2 linked regions of the Homo sapiens genome follow. The protein of the gene in region 2 purifies or fractionates together with the protein of the main gene of each other region. This does not show direct contact. Each region holds a gene or a part of one and is shown on either strand. Other genes may lie near its edges.

Region 1 (2,992 bases), on a different chromosome or scaffold from region 2:
CTCCCTCTTTTAAAAAATAAATTAAAAAAATCCAGTTTTGCATATCTAGCATTAGCATTTAAGGTAGTATGGCACCCCTTCACAGTGGGTGGGGGGGGGGGGATCTACAAAACGCCGTAGAGTCCGCCGGCATTTTAACATGGTGAGACCTTGGGTTAGTTGAAACCACATCAGATCAGCTAAAATAAAATTAAACTTGAAATTGAAAAAAATAATTAAAGGAAAAAACTGCCCCAAAATTATTAGCATTTTTTTTCATAAATAAGAGAAAGTTCTATCCTTACTGGTCCTAAATCTGAATAACTATGTCTAATTTTTTTTAAACCTTAATTATGTTATACCTATCAATATGTACTAGAAGAAAGAGGAGAAAAAAAGTCGCTACACTAGTACCAGGACAGCACGCTTACAAGATAGCCATTTTATACATTATTAACATACAATGATCAACAAAGAGTCTTCTATGAGGTGATGGGGGATGCAGAGAAAAGGAAGGGAAGTACAGTACATCACCAACATGGACAAAATAGGAATTAAATTCCCTCGTCTAAACACTGAATTTCTGGGAATTTACTATTTTTTCTTTCTTTTTTTTTTTTTAAATAAAACTTATGTTTTGTTGTTTTATGACTTGAACAAGTTTTGATATTTTAAAAGCGCTCAGCATTTAATCTGGTTGTTTGGGGGAAAAGAAAAGAAACAAAGAAAGGAAAAAAACAACAAAAAAACCTCACCAAACAACCTAACATTTTATTAGAAAAACAAAGAACATGATTTTTTTTTTAATTAAAAAAAATGTTGTTGCTGTTTCATTAGAATTGAAAACGGGTTTTTTCTTTCTTTCTGAGTTAGCATTTTGGAGTCTTTAGTTTGAAGATGCTTTTGCCCTACCATGTCTGTGAATGTCTACATTAGTCTACTTTGTTAGTAAAATTTATAAAAATAGGAGTGCAGCAGCTCTTTATAATAAATGTCGCATTCAGTGTCTCATACTGGCTGTGCCTTAAGTACCAAATTTATAAACGTAACAATTTAAAAAATATTAATAAAACGTCAATATCACATTTTAAAAAAGAAAAAATATATATCCACACTACAATATGTTTTAATGCCATCTATTGAGTTGTACTTCTATAGTTGCTGTTGCCGACCTATTACCAATATTTAAAAAAAAGTTAAATTAAAAAATATCCTTCATCATAAGTATCTTTCCCCAACCGAGGACCATATATTATAACAGCCAAATGTTAAACATGTGCAAAGAGGAAACTGTCAGTTTTTCCCACCAGTCACAGTGCAGTGATGTTTATACTTTTTATTTTTAAAATTCTGTTTACATCTACAATAAATTAAAAAAAAATTCTTCCATAGCCTCTCTGGTGATACTTGCAGCACTGAGGTATTAAAAAAAATATATATAAACCAAAAGGTTGCTTTCCTAATTTGTAAATAGAAAGTGAATGGAGAAAGGTTGTATTAATGCAGGCTTATCCACTCCTGGCCCATGGGCCCCCAGATGTGGGAGCAGGGTGGGGGGCAGGGGGAGAAGAGAGGCAAAGTGTCCTAGGGACCTTTGGAGGTGCTGAAATGATTGGACAATAGAAAATGATCAAATATTTAAAAATTAAGACTGAAAAAGAATGTCCCCCCCACCCCACCCCCACCCAAGCCAAACAGGTGTGCTTTGAAACTTTAAATATGTTAAATATTAAAATTGTAGCTTTGTTTTTAAAAAACATCTTGGGAAAAGCAGTTTTTCATATTTTAAATAAAAATCTAACTAGACGGTAACATTTGAAGCTGTGCACAGACAAGAGGTTAATAGGCTGGTACAACACTAATACAGTTCTTAGGTCTATCACACAGACAAAGGAGCTAAACAGTGCTCTAACTTGTCCTGGGGTGGTCCTGGCAGCTGGGCGATCTTCATCTCAGTAACTGACTTGGCCAACGTTCCCTTCCCGCCTCCTTCCACAGAGCATCAAACTGCCTGGGACCGACTCCCTCACAAAAATATTTTTGATTCTCTCTTTCTTAATAGTTTCTATGTAGTTAATGGAATTGTATTTACAACATTTCTTTTTTAGAATTCACAATTTCAAAAAACCTTATAATATCACCTCTTTCAACAGAAAAAAAGCACTTATAGAAAAGGAGGACACTCAAAACACTGTCGTCCTTACCTTATTGCCGAAAATAGATAGACTCAGATTAACAAAGAGACATCACAAAAAGAACTGCTAGAAAGTCTGTTAATTAGCTTACTACATCTCACTTCTTCTACAACGCAAAATAGAAAGCTCACGCCCACCTCCCGCCCTGCACTTCACAACTTTGCTTCAGTGTGTGCTAAAGTTCCACCTGAAAATTCATACAGTCTCAGAATTGGTACCAAAATATGGAGAGTCATATTACCATCTCAGCATCCTTTAAAAGTGAGAACAGAACCAAAACAAGCAAAAAAAAATGTTTTAAGAAAAAATAACTCCTTAATATAACAATTATACTATGGTTAGCTTTGAACTAGATATTAAAGCTATGTGACTACTGGACTAAGTCAAAATCACTACCAAATGTGATTCAAAGAGATTTAAAAGGAGAATGGGAAGAGAGGGAGGGAGAGGGAAACCATCAAGAAAAACAAAACAAAACAAAACCGAAATCATGGGTTATATACACATTTAAAAGCTGTTGTCTTATATTACAGCAGATTCGTGAGATGATGAGATGTAGTCAACCCTCGATCCGAAGTGAGCCATCTCTGGTTGGGATGGGGAGTGAGGCTGGTGGGGGTCCAGGTCTGAGGACATCACCTAAACAAAGGGCCACTCAGAAACTTCGCCCAGTCTTGCCTGGACATCCAGGTATGCTCTGCAGGGCAGGGAAGGCCAGGATGTCCAGAAGAAAACATAAAATGGAGGGGAGAGGGGAGGAGAAAGAAGTGTCAGACAAGTATGCGATTTCCTCCACTGTTTTAACTAGAGTTTCAAAG
Region 2 (2,788 bases):
TGTCAAAGGTGTCATCCAACAGTTCTCATTTATAAATATATATAGAGAGAGGTTTGTTTTTTAATGTAGCCCGTTCAGCATCCTGCCCTAAAATGAAGAAAATCAGGGCTGATTAAGCCAAGAGGGAAAACACAAACAGCATCCAAACACCAATAGGAACCTGCCTCAGGGGCTAGGATGGGAGCTCTAGGGGATGGTGGGAGGGAAGGAAGAGAGACCAGTATGAGAATTAGTCATGATCATGATACATTAAAAAGAAATATACTCTTCTATTCAGAGTAGAAACCACTGGGAGGTCTAGTGGTGATGGTTGTAGCTGAGGTTTCGTTGTTGGGAGAAGGTTCTTGATTTGGGTTACTTTAGCATTCTGGATTGGGGGTAGCTACATCTAAGGGGAGAATTTGGGACTGCGGGATATGAATTCATAATTAAACTTGTCTCTGAGGGATCTAGCCCAGATACAATATGTATACAGAAGCCTAGCAAACAAGATAGGAAAAATCTAGCAGCCCAGCCCACTCCTCCCAGCTCAAGGGAAAGAAGGAAGACACATCCGTGACTCAAATTTTGTAGAATCCTTGCCCAGCTTCCAGCCAACCACTTCTTTCCCGGGGTCAGTAACTATTTGCGAGGCTGTGTATATATATGTATATCTGGATATATGTGTAGAATATATTCACCTGCACATATGTGGATATACATGGATATGTGTGTATGTATATGCATATATACACACATACACACACATAATACTTTTCTCATACATGCCAGGGAATTTAGAGGAATTCAGAACTTCAAGGGAGTGGATGGGAAAACCTAAAAAAGGTCAGAAGAGATTTAATTATCAAACTTAAATAAATTAACTCAGACAGTGCTTGATTTTGTTTTGAATGGTGGCTTTTTGGTGTTTTGTTTTGCTTTAAAAAAATCATGATCTGACTAGAATCAGAAGGCGAATGCTTAATCATTGTGAATTAACAAATGAGACTCATCTCCATTCTAGCAAGCAGCTTCCACTTATACATGGGGGTGACTGGTTACATCAAGAAAGTTAGAACTGCAAAGCCCCCACTTGAGGGGACAACGTCATGCGTATATCAATCCATGCTGGCAGGTTTTTCACACTGTTGATTCAACAAACAGCAAACCGTACACAGCAGTCTAAACAATTACAACACCAAATAAAATAATAATAAAATTAAAAAACACTTGTCAAGGACCCTTTTTCAGTTGTAAACAAAAAGGTGCATTTTGCTTTTGTTAGTACTGTTTCTTCCAAACCAACCAAAAAAAACCCTCCCGAGCCCCCAGTCCCCAGCCTCCCCTCCCCACATTTAATTTAGCAGAAGTGGTTACAATACAAACCTTACAATTGTTACCGGGCTCTCTTGCAGAGGCCTCTGGCTTTGTACTCTAGTTTTTTGGTTTAGAATTTTTTTATCATTCTGTTACTGTAGATATTTTGTTTTTGTTTTTTTGTTTTTGTTTTTTTTCCCTTTGAAGTGAGATTGAAAATAGCCTAACTGGAAAAAGACCAGACCTAGGAAAGTGTCAATTGAAAAAGGCCCCCAAATTTCTAGAAAAAAATAAAATCACAATATTTTCAAGTGCAAGTAAATCAACCACGCATAGATATTTTTAAGATGTTTTCCTTATTTTTAAGAAAAAAATAATGGTTTGCACAGGTAAATGATCCCATGTTTGATAATTCAGGAATTCATCTTTATTTTGACTATTTTTTGTTCTTTTGTTTTGTTTTTTTCTCTATGTGACATCTAGAGAAGCATAAAAAAACGCTGAACAAGAAAAACCAAACAACAGAAAGTAAAACCACTGCAAGCACCAAGAACGAAACGAAAATGAGCACAGCAAAAAAGATTGTGGCAGCACAAAAGTCAAGAAAATGCACGTGTGATCATGACTGGCCAATCATCAACTGATACAACATCCAAGAAAAACGCTCCAATCACAGCACCTCCACGAAACTTGACGGCAATTGTCATGCAACCGATTCTTAGCCTTGTTACATGACGCCATCATGTCACACTGTGAACTTTGAGTTGATTTGAACTTACGGATGGGGGACTTTTCTCCACTCTCATGTGATTACGTGAACTTTATTCCTAGCTCAGCGCGAGACTGTGGTGGATTTGACTGGCCCTGGTTGGGTTGTTGGAATTTGATTGAATGACAAAAGAAGAAAAGATTTATATATATATTTATATATGTAGAGAGAGAGAGAGAGAGGACAAGAGAGTGTGGGTGGGGGAAGGAAGAGGTGGGGCAGGGCAGGTGGGGTTGGGGAGTGTGGGAGGGCAGGGAGGGCTGGGATTTGGGTGAAGGAGGGCAAGGAAGAAGTTAAAACAAAATTAAAAAGAAAATATATTTATACAGCACCAGACCACAGCATCAATCTAGAAGCTCTGATGAGAGAACAGCAGTCAAATCATAAGAGAACTGAAAAGAACTCAAAGGATGGAGGAAGCCAGCAGACAAACATGGGCACATCAACACACACACACGCACACACACACGCACGCACACACATACACACATACACACACACGGTTGTTTATGCAGACACATGATACACTGTGAACAGAAGCAGAACCTCACACAGGGCCACTAAGGGCATCCATCATGCGTTGGGGAGGGGGGCATGGGCGGTTTGGCAAGGGGGCCAGAAAAAAAATAAAACAGCCCCTCAAACCACCTTGGCCAGCAAGCAATCTCAGGGAGCAGGCGCTCTGCTTTTCATCACCCTTGATTCTTTCTCTCCCCCAGGGGT

The links. The genes of interacting proteins can lie anywhere in the genome.
Region 1: the proteins of CELF4 (region 2) and MSI2 purify together in Homo sapiens (affinity purification with mass spectrometry, with the first as the bait; one large-scale study listed by BioGRID). This does not show direct contact.

The regions. Positions count from the first base shown.
Region 1 is NC_000017.11:57,679,428-57,682,419, reverse strand, and holds part of MSI2 (RNA-binding protein Musashi homolog 2), read right to left. Parts: intron 2,872-2,992; coding exon of another isoform or gene 2,830-2,871; 3' UTR 1-2,829.
Region 2 is NC_000018.10:37,245,111-37,247,898, forward strand, and holds part of CELF4 (CUGBP Elav-like family member 4), read right to left. Parts: intron 2,161-2,788; coding exon of another isoform or gene 2,107-2,160; exon of another isoform or gene 88-2,106; coding exon of another isoform or gene 61-87; 3' UTR 1-60. UniProt on the Homo sapiens protein: RNA-binding protein implicated in the regulation of pre-mRNA alternative splicing. Mediates exon inclusion and/or exclusion in pre-mRNA that are subject to tissue-specific and developmentally regulated alternative splicing.